5 separate regions of the Homo sapiens genome follow, and regions 2, 3, 4 and 5 are each linked to region 1. The links come from fine-mapping of genetic effects on gene expression. A gene starts in region 1. Each other region holds a variant in brackets. All regions are shown on one strand. Distances are from middle to middle.

Region 1 (6,031 bases):
AGAGGCCCTGCCTTCTGCCCCATGGCACTGGCCTGGGGCCCTGGCTCCTCTTCCCTGGTGGCCAAGGGTAAATGAGGCCCACTGGGGTGGCTAAGACTCAAGGGGATGGGGGCCCCCCAGCTTCAGTGATGCGGGCTGGAGCCAGGCTCAGCCAGCCCTGAGGTCCCCTGCAGGCCCGTGCCTCCTACCCTTGGGGCACCCGCAGCGAGAGCTTCCCAAGCAGCCTGCGCCAGCCGGGCAGCGCAGGTGTCCCGGGTCTGGGTCACTTGAGACCCCGCCCTGCTTCTGCTCGGCTCTGCCCCTCTTGGGCCCAGTGGCCAGGGCACCTGCATGGGGGAGCCGGGAGGGGCTGGAAGGATGCTGAAGACCCCAGCAAAGCTCTAGTGTTTGGCTTTCCAGGGGTGGGGGCTGGGTCCTCCCGCCCAGAAAGGCCCCTGTTCTGGGGCAGCAGCCACACACAGGTGTCCCTCACATGGTCCTCCAGGACAGGGCAGGGGCCTGAGTTTCCCAGGCTCTGCCCAAGGGACCCAGGCAGGGAAGGAGATGGGTCCCAGGGGGCTCGGAGCCCATCCAGAGGCCGGCCGGTCCCATGGCAGGAGGGCACTGGACCATGTGGGGGCCATAGAGGAGGAGGAGGCAGGAGCCACCCCCGGGTCCAACAGCAGAACCCTGGGGTTGGGAGCCAGAGTGGGGAAGGGAGAGGAAGGAGCAAGAACACCCCCCACCACCCCCAGCACGGCACAGAGAGCTGAGCAAACACTTGTCACCAAGGGCTTTTCTCCTCTGTCTTTTTTTGTTTTTCGAGACAGAGTCTTGCTGTGATGCCCAAGCTGTTGTGCAGTGGTGCGATCTTGGCTCACCACAACCTATGCCTCCTAGGCTCAGGTGGTTTTCGTGCCTCAGCCACCCAAGTAGTTGGGATTAAAGGTGTGCACCACCATGCCCGGCTAATTTTTGTATTTTTAGTAGAGATGGGGTTTCTGCATGTTGGCCAGGCTGGTCTCAAACTCCTGGCCTCAAGTGATCCTCCCGACTTGGCCTCCCAAAGTGCTGGGATTGCAGGCTTGAGCCACCACACCTGGCCTATTTTTTTTTTTTTTTGAGTTGGGGTCTGGAGTGCAGTGGCACGATCTTGCCTCACTGCAGCCCCCACCTACCTGGGCTCAGGTGATCCTCCCACCTTAGCCACCCAAGTAGGTGGGACCACAGGCACATGCCACCATGCCCAGCTAATTTTTTATTTATAGAGACAAGGTCTTGCCATGTTGCCCAGGCTGGTCTCAAACTCCTGGGCTCAAGCAATCTGCCTGCCTGGACCTCCCCAAGTCCTAGAATTGCAGGCATGGGCTGCTGGGCCTGGCCTTTTCTCCTGTCTTGGGAGGCTGGGACCAGTCTTCCTGGAAGTACCCAAGGCCCTCCTGCAGACCATGGTGACATTTCCAGGAAAGACCCAGAAGCTCGGAGCTGAAGCCAGGGCAGCCAGGACTGTCGGGGAGCCCTGGACACTGGCTGTCTGAGAGCGCTTGGTCAGCTGGCACCTGCCATGTGGTGGACGTGGGGCTGCAGAGACCCCACGGCTGGGCTTCTCTCGCCTGAGAGCAGGCCCAGCCACAGGCTACCTCCCACAGGGCCCCCTGAGACCACACGGCCTGCAGCAGCTCCCCCAGGCCCCCTCCCCCTGCCCGGGCAGCACTCAGCGCTGCATCTCCATCTGCTCACTCAAGTCGAAGGGCCTGGGGGTTGGTGCCTCCATCTTGTTCTGCTGGGGGCCTCCAGCATCTAGAGCAGGAAGGTGTGCGGAAGAAAACCACTCATGCAGGGAGAGGGGGACCTCCCAGTCCAGGCCCTGCTGCTGACCCTTTCCCTGAACACCAACCTATGGCCTCCAGGCTGGGGCCCCTTGAAGGACGGTGGGCCACTCGGGTGGCCTGGGTTCAGGGCCGGGCTCCACAGCTGAGTTCTGGAGGGAGGGCACAGACGACTGGGGGCTGGGAGGGGCCAGGTGAGGGGTAGGAACAGCCAGGGAGCCCTGCAGGAGGGGTGCCCAGCATAGCCCCAAAGCTGCTGGGGCTGGGCAGGGCAGAAACTGCCAAGGAGTCCCAGAGCCCTGAGTGGCGTCTGGCGAGGGCCCCTGACCCTGATCTCTGTAGACCCCACTCCTTCCGTGAGGGTGGCAGCCACTCCAGGGCCCAGCAGGGCCAAGGGAGAGGCAAGTGGCCTGGGCCCATGGGGCACTGGGCACAGCCAAGTGTGGCACCAGGGTGCCTGGGCGGCTGCTGCCACCACGTGGCCGACTTTGAGGTCGCAGAGCCCGGGGTCCAGGCAGGAAAGCCCCTCAGCTGCCCCCAGGGCCCTGGCCCAGGCCCCTGAGGCCCAAGTGAGCCACCTGGACTTTGTCACTTCGCCTCTGGTTTCTTGGTTAAGGAGCTTGAGTTCCCCGCCTTTTGTAAAGAAACGGTGGTGGCGACGGCGGATTTCAAGCTTTATTTACTCCTGGAATGGTCCTGGGAGGAGAGGCGGCTCCGCAGAGCCGGAAACGGGGGCGGGAGCTGTTGGGTGCAGCCGGGAGGAGGCAGTGCCGGGGCGGGCCGGGCAGCCATCGGGGTAACGGAGGGGGCTCCGGCCCGGGGGCTGCCCGGACGGGAAAGGGGACACGGGCGGGGCTCCCCCACCTGGGCCCCCCACCCTCACGCCAGGCCCCCCTGTGCGGTGCAGGACGAAGGAACCCTGGCCTCAGTTTCCCTACAGGCTGGGATCAGGGCCCCTGGGGTTCCGACTGTCTCGGAGGGGGGCGGCCTCGCTGCAGAGGTCTGGAGGCGGGGCCGGGGCGGGGGCGGGGCCTGGAGGGGCGGGGGCGGGGCTTGCGCTCACTTCCGCCCGGCGCGGGCTTGGATGGAGGCGGCGCGGAGGCCGCGGCTGGGGTTGAGCCGCCGGAGGCCGCGCCCGGCGGGCGGGTGAGGCCGGGAGCCGGGCGGGGGCGCGGCCGGTTTTCCCGCTCCCACGTGCTTCCCGGCGCCCCCGCGGGCCTCCCGCTCTATTCTCCCCCTGGGGAGGGCTCCCTGCCCCCGGGCCCGGCCCCCACGCCCGTCGCCCCACCCCGCGCCGCCATTCAGCGCCCGCCTTGAGCCCCCACCCCACGCCGAGCTTCCCCCGCGCCGCCCCAGGCCCTCCCGCGCCTCTCCCATCATCGCGTCTCCCCTGAGCACCCCCCATCTAACCCTCTACCTTCCCCAGGCCCTCCGCAATCTCCCCAACCATCGCCTCATCCCGCTGAGGACCCCATATTTCCACCCACCCACCCCGCTCCCCCACCCCCAGTACCCCTCATCTCCGCACTGTCTGCCCCAGCAGCCCTTCCCCCAACCCTGCCGGCCACCTCCCGCACCATCGAATTTCCCTCTAGTACCCCCCATCTCCCCGCTCTCTCTGCCCCAGGCCCTCCCGGGTCTCCCCACCATAGCGTTTCCGCTACTGAGTACCCCCTGTCTGCCCTCTCTGTCTGCCCCAGGCCTTCTGGCGGCCGCCCCTGGTTTCTCCTGGGGGGTGATGAGCGGGAGCGGCTCTGGGCCGAGCTACTGCGCACGGTGAGCCCGGAGCTGATCCTGGATCACGAGGTGCCTTCACTGCCCGCCTTCCCAGGACAGGTGTGCCCACTGGGCCCATCTTAGCGATGAAGGGGTTTCCAGGGCGGGAGCCATCGCTGGGCAAGGCCCAACAACTCTGTGTTGCAGGAGCCCAGGTGCGGCCCGGAGCCCACTGAAGTCTTCACTGTCGGACCCAAGACCTTTTCCTGGACACCCTTTCCGCCGGACCTGTGGGGCCCGGGCCGTTCCTACCGGCTGCTTCACGGGGCAGGAGGGCACCTGGAATCCCCCGCCAGGTCCCTGCCCCAGCGCCCGGCACCTGATCCCTGCAGGGCCCCCAGGGTGGAGCAGCAGCCGTCTGTGGAGGGTGCCGCGGCCCTGCGCAGCTGCCCCATGTGCCAGAAGGAGTTCGCCCCCAGGTGAGTAGGCCACCCCTGCGCCCGGCCCGGTTATCCATCCGTGTTTGGAAACCACAGCCGTTCAGAAGGTCAAGAGGTGGCCGAGCTCAGCGCTGGCTTTTAAAGCCCTGTTTCACACTGGAAAGGTGGCCCAGTGCTGTGGCCTGGCATGTCCAGGTGGCTCTCTGTCACGGGTCTGGGGTCCACCTGCTTGCCGTGCTCTGTGGGCAGGGCAGGCTGGGGGCCCACAGAACAGCACAGAAGGAAGGCTGGGAGCACTGGCCCCGGGTCCACCTGGCCATCCTGGAATCTGGTGGCACCAGCGTCCCCAGGCCCAGAGCACAGGAACACCTTCCCGAGAGTGCGTCATGGGTTTTAAAAATGAAGATCGTCTTTTTTGTCTGGAGATGCTTTTTCTTATTTTTGAAACCCAACGTATATTTTTATGTATTTTTTAAGTAAAGGGGAATGGAACCCAGTTTTGCTAACAAGATAACCCAAACTGCCCAGTGCCTGGCCTTGTGTCTGGCGACCTCTGGGCCCTTGGCCTCCGGAGCAGGTCCTGGGGCTGGGGTGGTGTGAATGATGCTGGTTCGTAACTTTTGGTTGAGTTAATGGGCGGCAGGTTTCAGAGCTTATGGAGACCAGGTCCTTCAGTCATGCCTGATGCCCCTGGTCTTCCAGAAGCAAAAACAGCTCGGGAATGCGAAGGCACCGGAGTCCAAAGTTGGCAGCCAACAACAACAACAACAAAAGAAAAGGCCGGGCACGGTGGCTCACGCCTGTAATCCCAGCCCTTTGAGAGGCTGAGGCAGGTGGGTTGCTGGAGCCCAGGAGTTTGAGACCAGCCTGGGCAACATGGCAAGATCCCATCTTTACATGCCTGGGCGTGGTGGCGCGTGCCTGTGGTCCTAGCTACTCTGGAGGCTGAAGTGGGAGGATTCCCTTGAGCCAGGAATTGGAGGCTGTAGTGAAGTATGATTGCACCACTGCACTCCAGCCTGGGTGACAGAGTAAGACCCTGAATCACGGACAGAGGGTACTGTTGGGAGCCCTGGGGAGAAATCCATGCTCTTGGCTGAAGCTCTGAGATCCTTGTTGCTGTCAGGGTGCTGCCCCCCGCCCCCCGGGGAGGGGCTTTTGTCTTTGCATCGCCTGCTTTTCCAGATAGTCTAAAAAAAGACTTCTGAAGACAAGGACGTTCACGAGGAAAAACTTGCCATTTTGAGCTTTTTAAGCAGTTGCTGAAAGCTTGGCAGACTGCCTCAATTTTTCCTAAGTAGGCGTCAATGAAGTCAGGTCCAGGCCTTGGTGTGTCTGGAATGCTTCAAGCACATTCGAACACTTGATCGTAAGGGAGAGCCGGTACTTTGGAACCGGAACTCACCCGAGGCTGTGGCCACCGCATGGGCAGGCTAGCTGGGGGACAAGCCCCATATCTTTGGGAACAAGGGTTTGCACAGCCACCCTGGGATGCCCTGGGACTCCTGACCGCACAGGACCCCAGCAGGGAGGCCGCCTGGATTGGAGGGTCTGGTCTAACAGCCGGACTTGGTCTTGAACCGTCGCCCTGTCCCGCACAGGCGCCTGCTGAGCCTGGAGCCCTGGCAGAGGCGGGTCTGGGGAGTGGAGCTGCCAGGAGGCCTCCCATTTCTCACAGCCTTGGTGTTCTCCGGGTCACCCAGAGGACCGTCAAATGCTGGATTTGACAAACTATGTAGAATGTTCTTTGTGTCTTTAAGATCTTCTTGTGGTCCTATTTGGACATTTTGTGCATTTTCAGACACCTGCGGGTCACGTGGGTGGATGGGAAGCTGGGCACCTGGTGAGGGGTGAGGATGTTGAGAGCCAGAGCTGCGTTTTGTCTCTGTTGATGTGGCGAGGCCCTGGGTTGGTCACTGGGATTTTTTTTTTTTTTTGAGACGGTGTCTCGCTCTGTCGCCCAGGCTGGAGTGCAGTGGCATGATCTCGGCTCACTGCAACATCTGCCTCCCGGGTTCAAGCGATTCTCCTGCCTCAGTCTCCTGAGTAGCTGGGATTACAGGCGTC
Region 2 (6,031 bases), 75 kb after region 1:
GACCCTAACTACCACCGTGACCCTAACCACCACGACCCTAACCACCACCATGAACCTAACCACCGCCACGACCCTAACCACCACGACCCTACCACCGTGACCCTAACCACCACCATGACCCTAACTACCACCGTGACCCTAACCACCGCCGTGACCCTAACCACCACCGTGACCCTAACTACCACCGTGACCCTAACCACCACCGTGACCCTAACCACCACAACCCTAACCACCACAACCCTAACCACCGCCACGACCCTAACCACCGCCACGACCCTAACCACCGCCACGACCCTAACCACCACAACCCTAACCACCACAACCCTAACCACCGCCACGACCCTAACCACCACGACCCTAACCACCACAACCCTAACCACCACAACCCTAACCACCACAACCCTAACCACCGCCACGACCCTAACCACCACAACCCTAACCACCACAACCCTAACCACCACCGTGACCCTAACCACCGCCACGACCCTAACCACCACAACCCTAACCACCACGACCCTAACCACCACCGTGACCCTAACCACCACCATGACCCTAACCACCACCGTGACCCTAACTACCACCGTGACCCTAACCACCACAACCCTAACCACCGCCACGACCCTAACCACCGCCACGACCCTAACCACCACGACCCTACCACCGTGACCCTAACCACCACCGTGACCCTAACCACCACCGTGACCCTAACCACCACAACCCTAACCACCGCCACGACCCTAACCACCGCCACGACCCTAACCACCACGACCCTACCACCGTGACCCTAACCACCACCGTGACCCTAACCACCACCGTGACCCTAACCACCACAACCCTAACCACCGCCACGACCCTAACCACCGCCACGACCCTAACCACCACCACCCTAACCACCACAACCCTAACCACCACGACCCTAACCACCACGACCCTAACCACCACGACCCTAACCACCACCGTGACCCTAACCACCACCATGACCCTAACCACCACGACCCTAACTACCACCGTGACCCTAACCACCACGACCCTAACCACCACCATGAACCTAACTACCACGACCCTAACCACCACCGTGACCCTAACCACCGCCGTGACCCTAACCACCACCGTGACCCTAACCACCGCCGTGACCCTAACCACCACCATGACGCTAACTACAGCCGTGACCCTAACTACCACCGTGACCCTAACCACCACCGTGACCCTAACCACCACGACCCTAACCACCACCATGAACCTAACTACCACGACCCTAACCACCACCGTGACCCTAACCACCGCCGTGACCCTAACCACCACCGTGACCCTAACCACCGCCGTGACCCTAACCACCGCCGTGACCCTAAGTACCGCCGTGACCCTAACTACCACCGTGACCCTAACCACCACCGTGACCCTAACCACCACCACGACCCTAACCACCACCGTGACCCTAACTACCACTGTGACCCTAACCACCACCATGACCCTAATTACTGCTGTGACCTTAACTACCACCATCACCCTAACTACAGCCATAGCCCTAACTACTGATATAACCCTAACTACTGCCATGACCTTAAGTACCACCATGATCCTAACTACCACCGTGACCCTAACTAACTACCGCCATGACTCTAACTAACTACCGCCATGACTCTAACTACCTGTCAAAGGCTTCGTCTCCAAACACCATCACACTGGAGGGTTAGGGCTTCAACATATGGATTCTGGGGAGACACACACTCAGTCCATAGCATTCCGGAAGTACACGCCTTGTTCGCTTATGCTGGCCCACAGCCAGGGAGGAACTTGGCCTCAGGAGGAATGGGCCTCCAGGCTCCCCCATGCCTTGTTCAGACAAGACTGCCCCCGCCACACTGGGAGGAGTTAAGGGTTCTGGGGCCATTGGGATGTAATGACAGTATTTTGCACGTGAGAAGGACACAGAATAGACATTCCCACCCCAGAAGAGAGAACTACGATGCCAGGCGCAGTGGCTCACGCCTGTAATCCCAACACTTTGGGAGGCTGAGGCAAACGGATCACCCAAGGTCAGGAGTTCGAGACCAGCCTGGCCAACATGGCAAAACCCCGTCTCTAATAAAAACATAAAAATTAGTGGGGCGTGGTAGTGTGACCCTGTAATCCCAGCTGCTTGGGAGGCTGGGGCAGGAATATTGCTTGAACCTGGGAGGCGGAGGTTGCAGTGAGCCGAGAGCGTGCCATTGCCATCCTGGGCAAAAAAAAAAAAAAAAAGAATCAAATGGAAATTCTAAAAGTAAAAAATGAAGTGACTGAAATTAATAATTTAAAGGGTAGATTTAAGAGTAGATTGGGTGAAATAAGAGATAACAGTAGAAAAAAATCCACATTGAAGCACAAAGCGGGAAAAAACCAACGCAGAAGAAACCCAGAAAAAAGAGCACATTAGACACACAGGTGTGAAGTGTGGGGGTCCCAGGGGAGAGAGAACAGGATGCTATTTGAAAAGCCAAGGGCTGGCCGGGCACGGTGGCTCACACCTGTAATCCCAGCACTTTGGGAGGCCAAGGTGGATGTATGATCAGGAGTTCCAGACCAGCCTGGTCAACATGGTGAAACCCTGTCTCTCCTATAAATGCAAAAAAAATTAGCCGGTCATGGTGGCAAGTGCCTGTAATCCCAGCTACTCGGGACGCTGAGGCAGGAGAATCACTTGAACCGGGGAGGTGGAGATTGCAGTGAGTCGAGATCGCGCCATTGCACTCCAGCCTGGGCAACAAGAGCGAGACTCAAAAAAAAAAAAAAAAAAAAAAAAAAAAACGAAAAGTCAAGGGCTGATATTTTCCAAAAGAGACAAAAGCTATCATGTCCCTGATTCAAGAAGCTCTACCAATCTCAATTAGGAGAAATTCTCGATTCCTCTGTCCTTCACAAGGCTGCTGTTGTGATGAAAACACTTTTAACAGGAGTCAGAGAAAAGAGATGTTGCCTTCCAGGGGTGGCAGTGAGGCTGGAAGGCGCCCTCACCACAGAAATGACAAACACTCCAAGCCAACACAAAAACCTGTTGGGGGAAACCCCCTACCTGCCTAGAACTCCACACAGAGTGGAGAACACCCTCCAGAAAGAATGCCAAAGACATTTCCCACACAAACAAAAAACAACTGGGCGTGGTGGCGCACACCTGCAATCCTAGCTCCTCAGGAGGCTGAGCCAGGAGAATCGCTTGAACCTGGGAGGTGGAGGCTGCAGTGAGCCAAAATCACACCACTGCACTCCAGCCTGGGCAACAAGAGCAAAAATCCATCTCAAAAAAAAAAAAAA[G/AG]AAAAGAAAAGAAATAAAAAGAATTAATTACAAGTCTGTGCTGAAAGGAATACTAAAGGGACTACTTCAGGCAGAAGGAAGCTGGTCTCCATGTAAGCGCCGTCCTGCAGGAAGACTAGAAGGGTAACCTGGGGGTAAATCTGAAGGACCACTGTCTAAGACAACACTTGGTTTGTGGGTCTGAAATACACGTAGAATTTACAGGCATGATAATAACAGCACAAAGACTGATAAAATAATAGCACAAACTAACAATAAGGAAAGAAGAATAATTAGGCCAGGCACAGTGGCTCATGCCTGTAAACCCAGCACTTTGGGAGGCCAAGGCAGACAGATCACTTGAGGCCAGGAATTCGATACCAGCCTGGTCAATATGGTGAAACCCTGCCTCTACTAAAAATACAAAAAATAGTTGGGCATGGTGGTGGGCACCTGTAATCCCAGCTACTCAGGAGGCTGAGGCAGCAGAATCACTTGAACCCAGGAGGTGGAGGTTGCAGTGAGCCAAAATCGCGCCCTTGCACTCTAGCCTGGGCAACAAGAGTGACACTCCATCTCAAAAAAAAAAAAAAAAAAGGAAAAAATAAGAATTAAACTGTTATAAGGTTTTGAAGAAAATGGTAAAAGTAGTTTATGCTACGTTCCAAGGATGTGACTCATAATTTCTAAGGTAGCCATTAAAATAACATTAAGAGAAGTATTACTTAACAAAGCTATAATAATAAAGGGAGGAAAGTGGAATAAAAACATCTGATTAAACCAAAAGAAGGCAAGAAAGAGGGACAAAACAAAGAACAGACCGGACAAATAAGGACCCATAGCAAGATGACAAAGCTACAATGTAACACATCAGAATGACATTAAATGTAAACGGACTAAATCTTTCATTTAAAACACAGCCATTTTCAGACTGGATTAAAAATAACTAACTTCTGCTTTTAAGAGTCATTTCCAAAATATACAGAAAAGAAAGTGAAAGGATGAAAAAATAGAGCATATAAACACTAAGTCCCCTTCCCTCCCTCCCCTCATCTCACACACACACACACACACACACACACACACACACACACACAGAGCTGGTGTGGTCACACTAACATCATACAGATCAGATGTTAATGACAATAATATTTTCATCTAAAGAGCAACATTTGGCCGGGCACAGTGGCTCACGCCTGTAATCCCAGCACTTTGGGAGGCCGAAGCAGGCGGATCAGGAGGTCAGGAGATCGAGACCATCCTGGCTAACACGGTGAAACCTCGTCTCTACTAAAAATATAAAAAATTAGCTAGGCGCGGTGGCAGGCACCTGTAGTCCCAGCTACTCAGGAGGCTGAGGCAGGAGAATGGCGTGAACCCAGGAGGCAGAGCTTGCAGTGAGTGGAGATGGTGCCACTGCACTCCAGCCTGGGGGACAGAGCGACACTCTGTCTCAAAAAAAAAAAAACAAAAACATTTCATGATGATAAAAGCATCAATCAAAAGGAAGATATGGCCAGGCATGGTGGCTCACACCTGTAATCCCAGCACTTTGGGAGGCCAAGGCGGGCGGATCACCTAAGGTCAGGGGTTCAAGACCAGCTTGGCCAACATGGTGAAACCCTGTCTCTACTAAAAATACAAAAATTAACCAGGCGTGGTGGCACACACCTGTAATCCCAACTACTCAGGAGGCTCAGGCAGGAGAATCGCTTGAACCAGGGAGGCGGAGGTTGCAGTGCGCCCAGATCGGGCCACTGAACTCCACTCCAGCCTGGGTGACAGAGTGAGACTCCAAAAAAAAAAAAAAAAGAAATAATAGGCTAATCTCTCTCATAAATACAGTTGCAAAAACAACAAACAAAATAATAGCAAACTGAATCAAGCAAAATATAAAAAGGCGAACTCATCACAACCAAACGAGGCACACTACAGGAATGCCATCGGTCTACCATTAAGAGCCAATCCATAGAATTCATCGTATGAACAGAATAAAGGAGAAAAGTTCTGTCACATCAATAGATGAAGGAAAAAAAGCATCTGAAAAAATTCAGCACCATTCATATTAACAACTTTCAACTAGGAATAAAATAGAACCTCTTTAATTTGTTGGTGGGGATTTACGAAGGAAAAACAGTATTTCCGCAAACAGCACCCTTAATGGTGGAATTCTTAAAGCTTTTCCCTGAAATCAGGCACGAGAGGATGTGGCTGTCACCACTTCTGTCCCATACTGTTTTGGAAGGATCAACAGTGCCAGGGTAACAAGGCAACATCTGAAGGAAAGGCAGAAACAAACAGCCGGTCACTGACAAAATGGCAGCGCACAGAGAGGTTCCGGAGCAACCACAGACAAACTACGGGGACCAGGAGAGGCCAAGACAAATGAGTTAATCACACTTCTTTACACATTGCTATAAACAAAAAGATAAAAAAAAAAAAACTGTAAAAGTAATACGGCTTAAAACAGCATAAGCACTGAAATACCAGGGAATCATTTGAACAAAAAATGTGGATGACCGCTACACACAAGACTACAAAATATTATTGAAAGAATTTAAGGCCGGGTGCAGTGGCTTGCATCTGTAATCCCAGCACCTTAGGAGGCTGAGGCAGAAGGACCACTTGAGCCCAGGAGTTCAAGACCAGCCTGGGCAACATAGGGAGACCCTGTCTCTACAAAAAAATGCCAAAATAGCTGGGCATGGTGGTGCACACCTGTAGTCCCAGCTACTTGGGAGGCTGAGGTGGGAGGATTGCT
Region 3 (6,031 bases), 35 kb after region 1:
GAAGGATGTCAATTTCGCCCCAGGTAATGTGTGAACTTAACAAATCCCAATGAAAATGCCAGTTTCGGGCCAGGCCCAGTGGCTTACACCTGTAATCCCAGCACTTTGGGAGGCCCAGGCAGGTGGATCACTTGAGGTTGGGAGTTTGAGACCAGCCTGGCCAACAGGGTGAAACCCCGTCTCTACTAAAACTACAAAGATTAGCTGGGTGTGGTGGCAGGGGCCTGTATTCCCAGCTACTCGGGGGGTTGAGGCATGAGAATTCCTCGAACCCAGGGGGCGGAGGTTGCAGTGAGCCAAGATTGCGCCACTGCACTCCGGCCTGGGTGACAGAGCAAGACCCCTTCTCAAAGAAAAGAAAAGAAAATCCCAGTTTCTTTTTCTTTCTGGAGGCAGACGGGTTGATTATAAAGTCCACATGGAAAAATAAACAAGAGAAAAGGAAAAACGAGGCAAAACTGTCTGGATGGTGACGCTGGTTAGTCAAGGGTCTTTGGAGTGCGGACGAAGGTTCTTTCCTGCACGTTAAAATGGGATACAAGTTTATAAAGAGGCTCTTGTTTTATGTGGTCTCTGTCGTTATCTAGTAGTTAAGCAGCAAAGGCACAATTTCAGGACCGGTCCTGAAAGTTCCTTCAACTAAGGAGACTCCAGGTGGCTCCAGGGCTGCCACCCCTATCCCTGCTCATCCTGGGAACCATGCAGGGCGCAGTGGCATGGGACGTTCGGGTCTGGATGGAGAAGGGGAGATGCCATGACCTCATCTCTGCTCACTACTAGCAAAATCATCTCCAAGCCTGCAGTGGAGGTCCCCCGGTCCTAACGTGACCCCGAATGGCAATGACACCTGCCCCCTGACCTGTTCTAAGAGCGGCCAGTGCCTCCCGATTAGAACTACAGACAACGCATCCCTTTCTCCCGTGTTCTGCACAGTCCTGTGTGGCCTGTGACACCACATCAGGAAACAGCAGGGCCCCCTGTACACTGCAGGTGTGTCCCAAAGCCCATGTCCTGGGGGTCCCCGAGGGCCCCTCACTGCCCAGGGCTCTGGGAGGATGCATGCGCAGCTGTCCGCAGTGTTCCCGAAGAGTGCAGGACGCCCTCGCAATGCAAAAGGCAAACCAAGCCCCTGGCTCCTGCCAGGCCCCTGATGCTGGGAAGAGCCCCTTCTCCCGTGCACAGCCTTGTGGGGGCCACAGGCCCAAGCGTCCTGCTCCGGAAGTGCTAGGGTTTAGGGTGGCACTTTTACCATTTTAGGCAACCCCGATGAAAAGTGAGCAAATCAGGGGGCCGCTGAGCCGTCACCGTGTGTCGGCAGAACAAAGGCTGAGGCGGCTGCGCCCACGCTGGGCCCTACGGGTGTCAGTCAGGATCTCTCCTTCTGTTCTGAGCTCCCATGACTCCAGCACACGGATGGGTTTTGAAAGGGAGGTGACTCATGTTCCCCAAGAAGAGGCACCTGCCCTTCCCAAGGTCGCGGCCGAGGCTGTCCTTGCTGTGGCACCCACTGAGCCCTTCCCTCTACTGCCTCCACCCCGACGGCGGCGCCTCCTCCTGCAGCCCTGAGGAGGCAGCACCCCAGGGTCAGACCCCGTCACACCCTCACCTCTTTCTCACACACCCACAACCACAATCACCCCCGGCGGGGCGGGGCGTCTCCATCCCAGGCCACAGCACCCCCGAGTCCTCCACGTCCAGGCTGGCTCCGCTCTGTGCCTGTCTGGCCAGCACTGCCCTGACTTCTGCGAACCGGGGTGACTCCCCCACATGGGGACAGGCCCCTCCTCCCCACCCCCTAAGGCTTCCCTCCAGGCCATGACAGGCCCAGCAGGTCCCTCTGGCTTCTGCGGCCCAGATCCTACTCCTCACACGAGTGCCTGCCCAACACCAGCACTGCACTGAGAATCCCTGGGGCCTCCGCATCCCAGGGCCTCTTGGCCAAGTCCAGCTTCGAAAGCCCCTGGCACCTTCAGGCCTGGTTCTCTTCTGTCCCTGACACACACCATTGCCCTCGTCCTTCCCACAGGCCTGTCCCCCATGAGCCCCTCCTACGTGACCCAACCCTTGCCTGCCCCCCTCTCCACGGAGTCCCACTCTGCTCCCTGCGGACCCTCCCCGGGTGCCACGCCTCCTGACGCTGGTGACCAGTTCCAGGGACGTCACTCTCTGCTGTTAGTAAAGCTGTCTCCCTCTCCAGAGCTTCGGGCAGGTTTCAAAGCATAACTGACACACACACACACACACACACACACACACACACGCACACTGCTGGGTGAAGTGCTTTTCATGTCTAGAAGTCAGTTTGACCAAGAAGAGCTTACTCAAGTGTCTCAGTCAGTGCACGGCCTGAGAAGCGCTTCCACAGATAAGCAAAGGTGTGTGTTTGTTCTTTTTAAAGAAACATTGAGTGTGAATGAATGTAAAATAATCAACCGTGGCAAACAGTAAGAGATTTTATTTTAGAACAGCGAGTGAATGGGCGTATTTTAAGGGTAGTTTGCTCACCTACCATCTGAGATCACCGTGCCTTAGTGAGAAAGTGTCCTCCGACTCCAGTTGAATGGGGCGGGGGACGCTGAAAGTAGTCATTTCAGCTAAATCTCTAGTTACCTGGTTTTCCTGAAATAGCTTAAACTGAAGCGATTTCTCGTTTTGGAGACTTTATGGCTCATTTCAATTTTGGCTGCTGTCTGGAAAAGGTGGGCTGTCTGTGTAGATATGGGGTATGGTTTGTCCATAAAGCAGGTGCTTATTGTGTCTTAAAACTGCGAATGAATTGTTTCTCTCCATCTGGACACACGAGGTGAGACTAATGTTGAACTGTAACATTCAGGAATTCCCTGTAGCCGCCCAGTGGACACGAACATGGCCGGCCAGAAGAGGCAAGACCAGATTTGGGGTGGAAAGAAAGCAATTCTGATTCTTCCCCACTCACAGACCCTTTATGGGAACCAAACTTGTGTGGAAACCTCTGCAGTTTCATCGGCCAGGTTCCCCCTGGATATGGCCCGGGAGCTGTGAGGCCGCCCAGAGCGAAGGAGTGTCCTGTTCTGCGTGTTATTCACCTGGCCCTCAGCAAGGGGC[C/T]CACGCAAAACCTCAGCTGGATGTTCCAGCAGAACCAACGCACAAAGAGGAAGTCCTCATAAAGCCTGCAGTCACCTCCAGTGACCAGGGAGCAGAGGCGGCACAGCCGAGCACACCCACCTGGGCCAGGCCAGACTTTTCCGCCACCCGGACGCGTGGCCGCCTTGCCGATGTTGGCTTTGCTTCACGTGGGTGTCTGGTGCTGTGTGGTCAGTAAGAATTTGTGGGCAGTTTTCACAGCCCCCCAGCTATTGGACTAAGGCAGCTGCCGGTCCTCCCCCCAACCCGGAGCTCACCCCGTTTCTACTAAAAATACAAAAAATTAGCCAGGTGTAGTGGCAGGCGCCTGTAGTCCCAGCTACTCAGGAGGCTGAGGCAGGAGAATGGCGTGAACCAGGGAGGTGGAAGTTGCAGTGAGCCGAGATCGTGCCACTGCACTCCAGCCTGGGTGACAGAGCAAGACTCCGTCTCAAAAAAAAAAAAGGCAAAAAAATCAGACATGCATAGGAATTATTCCCAACTGTGAATGCCGAATGCTCCCACAGGACAGTGATTGGTGCCGCTGCGGGGATCCCACAGACACCCCACAGACGACAATTCTTTAAGTTCAGGTTTACGCATCTGGGAACTTGTGACTTGACAGAAGAGTCCAAAGACACAAGTGCAGAAGGGGCTGAGCTTTGGGCCACTCAGGGGAAGTGAGGGTGGGATATCGGACCCCTTATACATCTACATCCCTACAAGTTCACATATGAAGAAGAACCAAAGCAAAACAAAACCCTTCTTGGAACCTCACCATTTAGGAAGTGTGGGGGGCCGGGCTGCCTTCCCCTGGGCGTATTCCCAAATCGCAAGGGATGGCAGTCAGGGCGGAAAGAGGCCTGGAAAAGCGCAATGGGAATGCACAAAGGGAGGCATTGACTCACTCCGGGAAGCAGGGGAGCAGAAGGAAAGGGGACAGAGCCGTCAGGCGCAGGCGGTGCGGGCGAGGGCGCCACGCTGAAGCACACGATGGGGCACTGGGGCCTGGTCACCACAAGCCTCGTCCACACGCACAGGAAGCTTGGAATTTACCCCAGAAGCAACTGGGGAGGAGGAATCAGAGGAGCTTTGAGGCAGGAAAAAGACTTCAGATCTGTGTTTCTCAAATATGGCTCAGGCCCAACATGGGGAAGCCAACACTGGGGAGCCCTGGGGTCAGGTGGGGAGGGTGGGGGACCCTGAAACACACTTAGGAGGCGTAAGCAGCCAGAAAACAGGAACCCTTGACCAGGACGGCACCGCACGTAGAGCAGGTCGGGGAACGGCCGGGTCACGCCGGCTCTTCCGACAGACAGAGGTGGCTGCCAAGCACAGGCAAGAGCAGGACCCTGCGGTCAGGAGAGCCAAGAGTGCAGCGGAGGAGAGCAAGTCGCCAGATGTACAGCTAAGAACCGAGCAGCAGAGGGTTGCACCCAGGGCCTAGGACCGCTGTGCTTAGGAAGCCTGGCCCGCAAAGCTGGCCCGGAGCTGGGGCTGGGAACGTGAACTGCAAACAGTTCCCTACACGGATATAACATGCTTCTGCATGACCGCCAGGCAGAGTGGTGGACACCTGTAATCCCAGCACTTTGGGAGGCTGAGGCAGGAGCCCAGGAGTTTGAGACCAGCCTGGGGCGACAGAGCAAGACCCTATCTTTATTTAAAAAAAAAAAAAAAAAAACTCTGGAGGCGGGGCTCAGTCACTCATGCCTGTAATCCCAACACTTTGGGAGGCTGCAGAGGGCAGATGGCTTGAGGTCAGGAGTTCGAGACCCGCCTGGCCAACACAGAGTACTAAAAATACAAAAATTAGCCAGGTGTGGTGGCAGGTGCTTGTAATCCCAGCTACTCAGGAGGCTGAGGCAGGAGAATTGCTTGAACCCAGGAGGTGGTGACTGCAGTGAGCCAAGATGTTGCCACTGCACTCCAGCCTGGGTGATAGAGCGAGACTCCATCTCAAAAACAAGAAAAGCACATTAAAAAAAAAAAGCTTTGGAATAAGAGCTGCTTGCTGTGCCCAAACTGTGTGTGCCTGAACAGGATGCCTTATGCTCGTGATGGTGAATTCAACGGTCACCTTGACTGGGCACGGGACGCCCTAGTAGCTGGCTGTACATGACTTCCGGGCATGCCTGTTGAGGGGGCTTCTGGAAGAGTAAGCAGACGGCCCTCCCTGAAGTAGACTGGCATCATCCAGGCCCCTGGGGACGTGAAGAGAACAAGAAGGAGGAGGAAGGCTGCGTTTCCCTGACTACCGAGCTATCCACCTTCTGGCCCCCTTGCTCCTAGCTCTGAGGCCTTCAGACCCGGACTGGAAGCGACCCCATCAGCTCCTGGCTCTCAGGCCTTCAAGCTGTGCCACTGGCTCTCCTGGGCCTCCAGCCTGCAGATGGCGGATTATAGGATTTCTCAGCCTCCATAATCCCATGAACCAGTATCTTATAATAAATCTCTTTACACACACACACACACGTGCACACAACTGGTTCTGTTTCTCAGGAGAACCCTGACTAACGCAATGCTGAACACCTGCTCTCCACTGGGAGTCTGGAATTTTGGTTCGTGTGCAGCCTGCATGACCAGCCCTTGACAAAAACCATGAGTTGTCACAATTCATTGCTGGAGGAACTGGGAGAGGGCTCTTGGGAGCTTGTGACTGGTTTCTTCTGGAATTTTCCCCATGTGCCTTTTTCCTTGGCCAAGTCTCCTTTATCTCCCCAGTGCAGTATGCCAGCTGTGGCCCCCAGTGCGGCCATGATTGATCCCAGCAGTCCTCCTAGCCAATCATCGAACCTGGGGATGGTCTTGAGGACTCAATGCAGAACATACTTAATAACTCTTCAAATAAACAAATCAGGTAGGTCAAAGTCAACTGGCCCCCAAAATTTTAAACAGGGCATACATTTAATATCCTAGATCATCAGCT
Region 4 (6,031 bases), 110 kb before region 1:
GGGTGGGGGGGCCGGGGTTCGGACCCACAGGGAGGAGGAGGTGGGGGGGGCCGGGGCTCAGACCCACAGGGAGGAGGGGGTCACATGGGAAACGCACATGGGTTTCTCCGTCTCCCCTGCCCCCCGGCAGGAAAGCATTTTTTTTTTCCTCAGTTAAAAACAGCCCAGAAAACAAGACAACTCTCAGGTAAGAAAAGAGTTTCTGAAAAAGGACCCAGCATATACATGTATAATACAACGGTGAAAAAGGAAAAAGTATTTACAGGTGAACTGTTTTTACATTGGCTAGTTCTGTACGAAAAGCAGACATTACGTGTATGAGTTAGCTGCTCCAGAGATATGAATGTTATTGCTGTTGTTTTTCCCTTCGTTAAAAATCTTCTTTCAGTATAGAAATATAATGAGAATTAAACTGAATACACAATCACTTAGATGAAGGGCCTCACACACAGAGGAGTCAGCAGCCCACACAGCGGACACCTCTTCCCCCTTCTGCTGAAAAGAAACGGACTCGCACCTGTGCCAAGGGGAGCCAGGCGTGCACCCCTCGGGGCCTGGGACCCCTCAGTCCAGAGCAGCCCTGCAGCCACAGCTGCCCCCTCAGGCCCCTGACAGTGGAAGTGACCCTGGTGAGCCGAGGCAAGAGCTGTGGGAACTGCCTGGGAGGGTCCCGAGCTCGCCTGCCCACGTCCGGGTCCCACTGACCGCACGGGCCTGGCAGCTGCAGGAAAGGGTGGGCCCAGGTGACACTGGCTGGACCCTCCCAGAGCCGAAGTGGGGAAGGGCTGCCACTGCAGATACAGCGCTTTCCGTTTGGGGCAAGATGGGGCGGTGGAGGCGTGGACCCAACGGTGACCGTCGGGATGGAGCAAGGGCAAGGAGAGGCTCTGGCCCAGACACAGCTTGGAAAAGCTCATCTCCCTCTGGGGTCTAAAAACTCAAAGCAAACGGAGCAAGCCTGGCGGCCCTGGGGATGGGGCAGGGCCTCTACCTCACTGTGATCTTCGACCTGGCGACACAGGACAGCCACACAGAAGCACGCCAACACACTTAAAGCTTTGCTCCAACTAAATCATTTAGTTTCCCTTGAAGAAATAACTGAAAAAAAAAACAACTCTGGTAAAACAAGGCTAAAAACAGCATTCTGCATGTTGCATAACAAAACCGACCCTTTACAAGACACGGTAATAATGCCCGCTGACGGATCTACCTACGGCAGAGGTGTGGAATCCATGCACACAGAACAACCGCAAAGAAAACAAAAGCAAAGAAAATTCCAAACAAACGCTGCATATACATGATGTCCCTTTTGCATTGCACTTTAGAAGGGGTGGGGGGCTTCAGCAGCAACCAAGACCCCCCTCAGTAAACCAAGGGCAAAACCCCGCAGGCAATTCCGCCACCCAGATGCGAGGGCTCAGCAGTCTCTGGTCTTTGCTCGTCACTGCCCCGAGGTCGTCTGTACCTGGGCAAGTAACCTCCACCTTCTGTGAGCGCGTGCAGCTGCCGCGGGTGTTAGAACGGATTCAAGCAAAGAACTCCTGTAAGATCTTCTTATGTAAATAAATACCGTAACTGTAGGATAGGTAGCCGCCTCTTGTCTACTGGGAAATCATTTTTCAAGCTTGGGCATAAGAAACCTTATACAATTTGCATAAACAGGTGAGAGTAAACGAGATTATTTGGAATAAATGCAAGGAACTTATTCTGAGAGTGGCAGATTCAGTCGCTACTGAAGACAGATATCTTGGGGGTAAAAAGACACGAGTCAGGATTTGCTGTACAAGATGCTGGAAGGCACAGAACGACCCCCGAAGTTCAGTTTTTGCATTTTCGTTTTCTTGTGATTCCCTTGTTCAACCAAGCACCAGAGGGGGTTTCTAAGCACTCGAGCACTTCGGATTTGACTGCTCTATAAATCGGTAAAAACCTCAGTTCACTGGGGAATAGAAAGAGAAGGGAAGGTTGTGGACAAAGTGCAGTTCTAAATATACGTTTAAATGAACGAACAAAAAAAAAGAAAGAAAAATTGAAATAATGCTCTTTTGTTCCAATGCTGCAGCCTCAGTCCCAAAATGAAGGGAGCGACGTTTGCCGAACTGAAAAGGGTCGCCCGGTCAGGCGGCACGTGTGCCCGGAGGGGCTGAGGGCGTGACCGCCAGCCACGGTCACCACCCGACGCAGGTCAGTGCCTCGTGGTGGAGGAGCGTGGGCAGAATCACGGGGTGCAGAGGAGCCGAAGACCGTCCCCTCAGCTCCGGGGCAGCTCCTGTGCGGCTCTGCACTTCCTGGTACCCGTGGGGACAGCGCTGGCATCGACGGCGGCGTGGCGGGCGGGGTAGGCGGCAGTAAGGCGGGCAGTGTTCGAGCTCATCTCGCACGCGGCACTGTCCCTGCTCTCCCTGGCAGCAGCAGGAAGACCTGGGTCCTTGTCGCTGAAAAAATAGACTCTGAAGAAAAACCCCTGCTGTCCTCACGCAGCCGCGGGCAGATGAGCTGTGATGGCTTCCCCGGGTGGGGAGGGTGGGGCGGCCGCCACCCCCACTCCGTTGCGGGTCTTCAGATGGCGTCATGTGTTGGGGCTTTTAGAAGTTAGTCATTTAAAAATGTGTTGATTTTCTGAATTTCAAGTCTCCTTACTGGTTTTAAATAGCTTATAACAAAAGTGTAAATGTTAGAATGTTCCAGCAAGCAGAGGACCAGCAGGCCGCCGAGCTGGCCCCGTCTCCAGCTGTAGTTGGGGGACGCGGCTTACTCACTTGAACTTGGCCAGTAGAAAATTTTGCAGTGGGTTCCAAAACTACATGGTTACAAACACTCGCTTGGTAATAGGCACGGTAAGACGTTGTGCTGTGTGGGCTGCAGGGGCGGAGCCGGGCGGAGCTGCACCGCCCAGCCGCGCCCCCCTGCACCCGCGTTGTCGGCGGCGCTGCGGCGGCAGGCACGGAATCTACGGCTCCAGCTCCGCAGCGCCCTCGCTGCCCGCAGCCTCGGGGCGGGCCCGCGGCCACAGCTGTTCCTGCAGCTCCTTCACCACCTTCTCCAGGTGCTCCCGGGCCTCGCGCTCCCGCAGCAGGTCGGCCCGCAGCTGCTCCCGGTCCGCCTCCGCGTGCTGCAGCTTCACCTGCAGGTCTTCGATCTGAAAGGGAGCCGAGTGGTCAGCGGCGCCTGCTCGCTGCCCTGCCCCGGCCCGACGCTGCTTCCCCCACCCGAGGCTCCTGCGCCGCTCCCTGTCCCTCCCCAGTGCCGCGTGCCGGCCCCTCCTCCACCTGCTAGGACACAGGCTCACGAGACGCAGGGCCCAGCAACCACCCACCCTGTGCCCGTCGGGGGGGCACGCACGGAACGTGGTCCCGGGCCTGGCTTCTGCTCCAAGGCCTTTCCGGCTGGGCAGGACTGGCCACCGGGGCCCACGGCGGCTCCACGCCCACCGTGCTGCGTGCCTCAGTCTCCCCACCCGCATACCTGGGCCGAGTACTTGGCGCGCAG[G/A]CGGCCCGCCTCGCAGCCCTTGTCGCACACCCGGGCCTGCCGCGCCTGCTCCAGCTCCCGCTTCAGGCGCAGCCGTGACTCGTTGGCCTCTTTCATCTTCTTCTCGTTCTCGGCGCGGAGACGCTCGATCTCCTTCCGCAGGTTACGCTTGGCCTCCGTGGCCTCCCGCAGCTTCTCCTTCTTGGCCACGCGTAGGAACTCCAGCTCCTGGGGGCCGGAGGCGGCTCGGGGTCACTGCCCAGCCGGTCCCAGCACACCCCTCACCATGACCAGCAGTCCTCAGCCCACCCCGTGGGGTCATCTATCTGACAATGTGCCCTGGAGCCCCGCCCCCAGCGCGCCATCAGCCCAACCCGTGTGGTGCCCCGACCCCACAAAGGCTTTTCAGACCCCCATCCGGAGTTTCCGCCAGGCCTGTGGCAGCTGTGCTAAACCTGGGGGCCTGAGTCAGTCACTTGAGGCTGCGGCGGGGCCTCCCCCGGTATCTAGGGCCACGTTCCCCTTGGGGGCAGCAAGCCAAGTAGGCCCTGGCTCCCATCAATGTGAGGAGGGCAGCCTCAGACATCGCACCATCTGAGGGCCCCGGGTCTCCCCACGCAGCCAGATGGACACGTCCATCCGCCCGGCGCCTCCGCAAGCCCCCCCACTCTCCCCATTAAAATATCCGTGTGACTCACACCCCACGCTGCAAACACACCACATGAATATGTATGTGGGAAATCACACCTCCAACCAGAATCAAGGACAACAGTGGCGGGGGACGTGCTGGGGCGAGGGACTGGCACGCGCAGGAGGGCACGTCGGCAACCCTGCAGCTCTGAGGGCCGACGGGGTTGTGTTGTGCTAAAGCCCACGCCGCGGAAGCTGCCAGACGCCGCCGAGGTGTGAATTTAGCGAGGCCGGGGCCCGGTGAACAACGGGCCGCCTGCACACCTCTCTCCCCAGGCAGCTCTGCCTGTGAACCGCACTTCCCTCAGTCATGTCAGAAAGAAACCTAAACAACGTAAAAGGAGGCGCGAGACCGGAGCTGCAGCGTGAGAACCGTGAGGCAGAGCCCAGAGAAGCAGCGTGTGCAGGTGGGTGTGTGTGTGTCTGTGCGGGCCGAGCCCTCTCCTTCCTACTCGGGAGGCCTGGCGGGAGCCGCCTTCTGGAACACCAGGCATTAGTAAGCACGCCCCTCACGCCTGTGTTTTGCAGACGCCAGGTCTTGCTGGCGGAGCGCGTGAACACCCACTCCTGGAGCACACAGAGCAAGGAACTGTCTCCATGCAGCTGCTCCCAACTCTTTCTGCCACTAAAAATAGCCCGGCCTCCCTTATACCAGAGAAACATGGCTACTTCCTCAGTGGGGCCACCACGCAGGGTGTGTGATCCTGATGGGGAAAGCTGTGGTCAAGCCAAATGTAGTGGCCTCCTGGGATGTCCATCAGCCTGGGGACACTGAGGGGCTCACCATACCCAGGGCTGCAGCTTTTGGGAGACGGACCCCCAAGGTCCCAGGCAGGCCCACTGAGGTGGAGGCAGAGAGGAGCGCATGGGGCAGCCAGGAAGGGAGGAGGCACCACCTGTGCCCGTTCACCTGGTGCAGGCTGTGCTCACTGCCCGTGCCCTGGACCTCCCAGCACCACTCGCCCCGCTCACCTGGTGGAGGCTGCGCTTGGCCTGCAGGGCTGCGCTGAGCTTCTCCTCCTGCTTCACGCGCATCTTGACCACCTCATGCAGGAACTTCTCTTTGGCTTCCTTGGTGTCCAGGCCGCCCTCCAGTGCCTGCCGCAGGTGCTCCAGCTCCGCCTCCAGCCCACTGGGGGCGTCGGCAGGGGCCGCAGCATCAGGGACGGCCGAGGGCAGGGCACGCGCACCCGGGGAGCCCAGGTCCTTGGCGGAGCTGGATGAGGTAAAGGACGGGGAAGAGAGCGAGGACAAGGAGGAGGTGACTGAGGAGGAAGCAGAGACAGAAACAAAGTCATGGAAGTGCCCGGCAGCTCCACACCAGGGAGACGCGCCGCTCCCGGAGGAACCTGCGAAACATGGGGCCACCAACGCACCCCCGGCGACCAGCCCCCCTCAGCCAGTGCCACCCCCACAGCCCACAGGGAGGAGGCACAGAAAGCGACTCACACGTACATTCCTCCCTGCTTTCAACTTCCACCTCCGCCTCCGAGTCCTTGTCCTCCTCTGGGGCAGCCACGGGCGCCAGCGTCTCTGGGGCTCCTGGGGTGTCCACAGTCAGCTTCCGCTTCCGAGGCTGGGTGCAAGTGGCGAGAGGCTCGGGGGCCCGGGAGACGGCGGCGGCACACGGAGGGCTGCTCACAACCTTCTGCTGGGCCGGCGGTGCGAGGGCCACGTTGGGCGCCACGGCTGTCTCAAAGCTCTTGTAGGAGTAGAAGCTGGAGGGGCAGGCGGGTGTCGGGAAGGTGCCTCTGTCCCCAAGCACCACCCAGACACATCCTGGCGCACACCCCCTCTGAAGGTGTTAAACAGGAAAGACTTTCCCAGCTCCGAATCTTCAAGTCAAGCTTACAGTTCCCTAAGAACCCGTAAG
Region 5 (6,031 bases), 140 kb after region 1:
TTGGCTAACATGGTGAAACTCCGTCTCTACTAAAAATACAAAACATTAGCCAGGCGTGATGACACATGCCTGTAGTCCCAGCTACTTGGGAGGGTGAGGCAGAAGAATTGCTTGAACCCGGGAGGCGGAGGTTGCATTGAGCTGAGATCGCGTCACTGCACTCCAGCCTGGGCGACAGAGCGAGACTCCAACTAAAAAAAAAAAAAAATTAGCCAAGTGTGGTGGCACATGCCTGTAGTCCCAGCTACTCGGGAGGCTGAGGCAGGACAATCGCTTATATCTGGGAGGTGGAGGTTGCAGTGAACAGAGATAGTGCCACTGCACTCCAGCCTGGGGACAGAGCCAGACTCTGTCTCAAAAAAATAAAACAAGTTTTGGAGAGGGGGGGGTCTCACTATGTTGCCCAGGTTGGTCTTGAACTCCTAGGCTGAAGCGATCCTCCCACCTTGACCTCCCAAAGTGCTGGGATTACAGTTGTGAGCCACCGCACCCGGCCTAGTCTTTAAATTTAGAGCCTCATTGATATAAAGGGCGAAGAAAATTAAGTGTTGTAACCAGGTAGCCCGGTGTCCAGGAGAATGATGGATCTGTCAGAAATCCATGGGTGGTTTCGAGCTTTGGTCCCATCTTGGACTCAATCGTCCATGGCCAGACGCCTGGCAAGGAGCCCAAGCTACGCCAGAAGTGGACACAGAGACAAAGACGTGACCGGCTGGCCACAGCGCTGGAACCACATTCCCAGGCCCCAGACGCCCTGCAGACCCCCAGCAGTACCGGGGAGGAGCCCACGCCCACCTAAAGACAAAGTGGAAATGATCACAATCACATCTCCCATGCGTCAGCTCATCATGGGGCTTTGAACTTAAAGCTGAGGACAGCTGTGAGCCTGGAGCCGGGCCTAGGGAGCACCGGGCAGGTGAGGTGGCTGGTGGGGCTGTCCCCTCTGTCCACATGCGCCGCGGGCCCTACGCTGGCCACTGGAGCCTCTGAGTGGTTTACGGGTTCTTTGTTAAGAGCAGTTTTCATTTGGGTTAATAAAATGTCAAAGAAAAGGCCGGGCGCGGTGGCTCACATCTGTAATCCCAGCACTTTGGGAGGCTGAGGCAGGCAGATCACGAGGTCAGGAGACTGAGACCATCCTGGCTAACACGGTGAAACCCCGTCTCTACAAAAAATACAAAAAATTAGCCGGGCGTGGTGGCGGGCGCCTGTAGTCCCAGCTACTCGGGAGGCTGAGGCAGGAGAATGGCATGAACCCAGGAGGCGGAGCTTGCAGTGAGCTGAGATTGTGCCACTGCACTCCAGCCTGGGCAACAGAGCAAGACTCCGTCTCAAAAAAAAAAAAAAAAAGTCAAAGAAAAAAACCCAAATGGCATTATATTAGACATCCCTAAATTCTCTGGCATCATAGGATTTTAAACCATTTTAAATCCCCCAGCTAGTCGGCAGACACCCACAGCCAGGAACAGCCCCCCAGAGCTGCCCACCACAGACCCCGCCACTAACCATGAATGATGAGGCCTTCATCCCTGCACTGACGGGCCAGGCGGAAAGCCTCTTCCAGCTCCATCTGGGAGGACACCGTGCAAGGGTCACCTGGGTGGGGCAGGAGACGGTGCTGACGTCGCCGAAGGCCCGAGGCAAAGGGGGCTGTGACGAGCCCGCTCAGCACACCAGACAAGGGTCTGGTGGGGGGCAAAGTCCCGATGCTCAGACTGGCCACCTCCTGGCAGGGTCGGGAGGTCCAAGGACGGCCGTCCACACTAGGGAGTCACCTGGCCCCCGGTGCAGCGTCAGAGCCACCCCGGAAGGGAAGTCAGTACACCTGCAGCCCTGGGCACCACTTGGAGGGCTAAGCAGTGAGCGGGGCTGAGGACACTCTCCGGAGGTCAGTCCTGGGCGGAGGGAGAGCTCCTTGCCCTCTATGGCTGGAAAGGGACATGGAGGTGTACAGAACCCAGGCCCTGCAGGGCTGTACCCAACCCAACGGGGGCGCTATCAGGCTCCACCCGCACGGCCGTGTCCTTGGCCAAGAGCTGCCCGCCAGTCCCTGGGAGAAAGGGGTCTCTCTGGACGTCTCCCAATCCCCTTGTTTTTCAGGATGTGTCTAAGAGACAGGAGGTGGACACGGCAGGCCCTGGCTGCTTGTGCCCTCCCCGTGGTCCCTAGAATATGAAGAGCCCATCCTTTCAGAAGCACCTACCGAAAAAGGCCAGGACATGAGAAAGGAGGTCAGAGGAAGAGGTGAGGACCTGCCCAGGGTGGGGCAGGGAGACCCCCTGCAGGCAGTTCAAGACCAGAGCCCTTCCTAGGGGCATCTGGGCCCAGGTCCTTGATAAGCATCTGTGGCCAACCTCTTTCCCACCATCCCCACTGGGGAAAAGTTGGCGCCAACAAGTTTAATTCCACAGCTTTAAGTCTCCCCACAGAATTGGCTGAGCACACTCCGCACACAGAGGCTGCCCTGGCGAAGTCCCCTGAGGCTGAGGATTCTGGCCAACATGGGACAAGGGCTACCTTCGCTGTCCACCCACTTGAGGGTGAGCGGGTGCTGCTGGTGCAGACGACACATGTCTCTCACTTCCTCACAGAGCTCCTCGAAGGTCGTGGCGGCGTCCACGCTGGTGATGAAGATGTCCCTGGGGCAGAGGGGACATGGGCATCTGTTACCGTGGGGCATATTTGAATCAAATTAAAAAATGATTACCAACTAACCAAATCATTGATTAGATAAATGAAACTTTCCCCAAAGACAATATGACAGCCCCACCCCCTCCCCCCTCCCACACACAAAATAGAACCATTAACCATAACCATAGTTTAAAAAATGGCCACCATTGCCAAGCACAGTGCCTGACACCTGTCATCCCAGCACTTTGGGAGGCCGAGGCGGGTGGATCACGAGGTCAGGAGATCGAGACCATCCTGGCTAACACGGTGAAACCCCGTCTCTACTAAAAATACAAAAAATTAGCCAGGCGCGGTGGCGGGCGCCTGTAGTCCCAGCTACTCGGGAGGCTGAGGCAAGAGAATGGCGTGAACCCGGGAGGCGGAGCTTGCAGCGAGCCGAGATCGCGCCACTGCAGTCCAGCCTGGGCGACAGAGAGAGACTCCGTATTAAAAAAAAAAAAAAAAAAATGACCACCATCAACTTCCTTGCACAGAGAAAAAAGCGCGACCTACCTGGCTGGAAAGAATGAGGACAAAATGGGAGAAAAGAAAGTGCCCTCTTGTGGGAGGTCCGGCAACGTTACCTGGTCGGGCACTCGTTCAAGTTCACCCAAATGTGGGTGACCCCGGGATGGGCGCGAGCCGGGTCGGTGCAGGCCGCCGGCTTCACTAAGGTAAAGGAAACCAGTCAGACCTGCCCCCAGACCTCGACGGTGCCAGCGGTGAAGTGGCGGGGATTAAATAATTCCA[T/C]AATGAAAGGCCACTCTTTAGACCCCGGAGTGGGCACTGGGTCCGTTGCTGCAGCCACGGCAGAAGCCCCGGCAGATTTTTTTTTTTTTAAAACCGAGTCACACAGAGTCAGTGTGTTTTATCTTTTCAGCCCCAGACAGGACCTGAACTCCAGGGGCTGGGGAAGCTCACGGACTCCCAGGCACCCTTTGAAGGCTGGCACTTCCCTGCTGATAGGGACCCGAGGTCCCCCCTCACCTCCTGCACTGAGCAAGAGCTGGTCTCACCCTGCGTGGAGGGGAGGGACCACCACAGGGCCCAGCTGGTGTTTCCTGAAACTCAGAGCGGGAATCACACCCTTGTGAACACACTGAATTTTCAGAAAAATCTACGGCTTTCTGACACCCACAAGAGCGCGGGGCAAGAGCACAGGGCCTATAAAAAGAAGCCTGAAGGGGTGTGAGATGTCCCAACCAGAGATACAGGCTCTGCTCTTCGCTGACACTGCTGGCTCCCCATCAAGGTTATCTGAATTCATCAGACAAGTTTCAAGAAACAAAGTTCTCATCCCAGACAAGAACTCCAGTGCAAACAGAACACAGGATCGGTCCACAGCCGCGGCCCTGACACAGCAGCCCAGGGCCCACCTGCCCCACAGGCCTCACCCAGTCACCCTGGGCCACCTGGGCCTGGGGGACAGACGCCCCAGCTACCCACCCCTTCCTGCTGGAACTGGCCACCCAGCACCTGCCCCCAGTGCCCAAGCACCCCACAGGAACCAACCTGGCTGGTCTTCGCCACAGCCCACAGCATCATGGCAGATTAGGAAAGTAAGGAATGGAGGGGGGTCACACACCCATCACCCTGGGGTCGCCCCAAGCTGACATCCACGCCTGCTGCCTGACCTGGAGTCCAAAAGTCTGACCACCAGGAACTCCAGAGTGGGAGTCGGCCATCACTTCACCTTTGACCTCTTCCTGCCCCACGCCCCTACCCCTACAGTCCTGCCTCCAGTGGAAGCCAGTTTCCGGCCAATCTAGAGGCCAGGTGGGTGGCTCCAGTAAAACCCCAGGGCTTGGGAAGTGTCAGGCCACCACCTCCAACCCTATCCCAATCCTGAATCAAACAGCTGCCCTGTGCCCTTCAGCAGGGGCGTCCAGGACTCAGCACCCAGCAGCCAGCTGGGCCGCCCGGGAGAGACTCCTGCGTCTCTGTTGGCCTCAGCACCAAGCCCTGGGCTTTGCACACAGAAGCTCCCTGAACACAAACGTTGTCTGAGCTGGGCCAGGCGCGGTGACTCACGCCTTTCATCCCAGCGCTTTGGGAGGCCAAGGCGGGCGGATCACGAGGTCAGAAGTTCGAGACCAGCCTGGCCAACAAAGTGAAACCTCATCTCTACTAAAACTACAAAAGTTAACCGGGCGTGGTGGCGGGCGTCTGTAGTCCTAGATACTAGGGAGGCTGAAGCAGGAGAATTGCTTGAACCTCGGAGGTGAAGGATACAGTGGGCCGAGACCACACCACTGCAGCCTGGGCAACACAGCGAGACTCAAAAAAAAAAAAAAGTCTGAGCTGAAAGAGGGAAGAGCCAGCACCAGTGTTTGTGGCCCTAGAAGAGCGGGCATCTGAGACTCAGCGTGGGAGTCTGGCCCAGGCCACCTGGGACTCCCTGAAAACACAGGTGCCTGGGGACCCCTCAGGCCCACAGGGGGCGGGGTGGGGTGGCGAGGATTGGATCTCAAGTGTGCTCAGAGGGCCCTGGGAGGACAGGCAAGGATGACGGGGTGGCCATGCCCCATGGGGGTGACTGAAGTGCTCTTCCTTTTTCTAAAGACTAGTCTTCCACGTGTCCACGCTCAGCTACCCCCACGGACAGCAGCGTCTCACCCCAGGGACAGAGTTTCTAGGGCTTTCAATAACCCAGTACTCATCCTGGCAGCCGCTTTCTGGAACTGTGTCATTGCCCTAAGGCCTGAGTGTCCCACCCCACAGCCAGTCCCCTCAGAGAGGCACCGGGTGCCCAGAGGGACGAGGAGCCAGAACGGGGAGAAGGGTACTTCACACTCTGCAGCAGAGAGGAGGAGGACCTGGGAGGGGAGAGAGGAGAGAAGGAATGGTAGGAGCAGGGAAGAGCCAGAGGGGAGACGTGCCCTAGAAGGGGGAGGAAGGTGAAGGAAGAGGTGTGGCAGGGAAGGGAGAGAGGGGAGAGCGGGAAGAGGAGGGAAAACAACAGGGAAGGAGGGAGGAAGAGGAAGGGGTGGGGAGAGAGGGGAGAGAGTCCGGGAAGGGAGGGAAGAGGAAGGGGTGGGAGCCTGGTCTCTCCAGCCTGGGAAACCAGAGTCACCGGGTGGAATTACACCCGCCCCACCACCAAAGTGCTCCCAGGGGCCAAAGCAAGGCAGAGGGAGGACGGGGCGGCCCAGAACTCCAGTGGCATTGCCTCCGAGCCTTGGTCCCAGGAATTGGACGCCGGAATGCAGGAGGGTCTGGGCCCCTGCAGCCCCTCGGGTGTGGACCTCCCTCTCGCAGGACTCCCCTGAGCTCCGCACCATCACCTGTTGCCCAGTGTGGTGGCTCCAGAATGGCAAGGAGACAGGAAGCCCAGGTCCCTGGACAAGTCCAATAGCCAGAA

Direction of the effects. Positions count from the first base shown, and alleles are read on the strand shown. Sizes are in standard deviations (SD) of each study's normalised expression. Not every link is listed here.
With allele AG in place of G in region 2, the expression in monocytes after LPS of the gene that starts at base 2,870 in region 1 is higher (moderate effect, 0.65 SD a copy in Kim-Hellmuth 2017).
In carriers of allele G in region 4, the expression in CD8 T cells of the gene that starts at base 2,870 in region 1 tends to be higher than with A alone (large effect, 1.6 SD a copy in Kasela 2017).

Evidence for each region. PIP is the estimated chance that this variant, and not a neighbour inherited with it, causes the effect. A credible set is the group of variants that fine-mapping cannot tell apart.
Region 2: its variant is the best candidate, but not a certain one, in a credible set for the expression of FAAP20 in monocytes after LPS (Kim-Hellmuth 2017, PIP 0.67).
Region 3: its variant is the best candidate, but not a certain one, in a credible set for the expression of FAAP20 in whole blood (TOPMed, PIP 0.69).
Region 4: its variant is the best candidate, but not a certain one, in a credible set for the expression of FAAP20 in CD8 T cells (Kasela 2017, PIP 0.55).
Region 5: its variant is the best candidate, but not a certain one, in a credible set for the expression of FAAP20 in whole blood (INTERVAL, PIP 0.68).

The regions. Positions count from the first base shown.
Region 1 is chr1:2,191,611-2,197,641 of GRCh38, reverse strand. It overlaps FAAP20 (FA core complex associated protein 20), which reads left to right and starts at 2,870. Exons shown (of 4, transcript NM_182533.4): 1 at 2,870-2,954; 2 at 3,509-3,644; 3 at 3,732-4,003. The coding sequence starts at 2,893. LOC112268219 (a long non-coding RNA gene) reads right to left here. Exons shown (of 1, transcript NR_168005.1): 1 at 5,184-6,031. RefSeq lists an enhancer at 1,236-1,902 and silencers at 2,536-3,015, 3,026-3,115.
Region 2 is chr1:2,117,050-2,123,080 of GRCh38, reverse strand. The region is part of intron 4 of PRKCZ (protein kinase C zeta); the gene reads right to left. Among named protein-coding and RNA genes, the nearest start is that of PRKCZ-AS1, 64 kb to the left of the region's middle. The variant G/AG (reference allele first, on the strand shown) is at 3,292.
Region 3 is chr1:2,156,468-2,162,498 of GRCh38, reverse strand. All of the region lies in intron 10 of PRKCZ (protein kinase C zeta), which reads right to left. Among named protein-coding and RNA genes, the nearest start is that of PRKCZ-AS1, 24 kb to the left of the region's middle. The variant C/T (reference allele first, on the strand shown) is at 3,085.
Region 4 is chr1:2,303,685-2,309,715 of GRCh38, reverse strand. It overlaps SKI (SKI proto-oncogene), which reads right to left. Exons shown (of 7, transcript NM_003036.4): 4 at 5,614-5,876; 5 at 5,131-5,423; 6 at 3,466-3,696; 7 at 1-3,139. The coding sequence ends at 2,951. Among named protein-coding and RNA genes, the nearest start is that of SKI, 78 kb to the right of the region's middle. RefSeq lists an enhancer at 2,429-3,062. The variant G/A (reference allele first, on the strand shown) is at 3,490.
Region 5 is chr1:2,052,049-2,058,079 of GRCh38, reverse strand. It overlaps PRKCZ (protein kinase C zeta), which reads right to left. Exons shown (of 18, transcript NM_002744.6): 2 at 2,518-2,639; 3 at 1,507-1,596. Among named protein-coding and RNA genes, the nearest start is that of PRKCZ, 4.7 kb to the right of the region's middle. The variant T/C (reference allele first, on the strand shown) is at 3,421.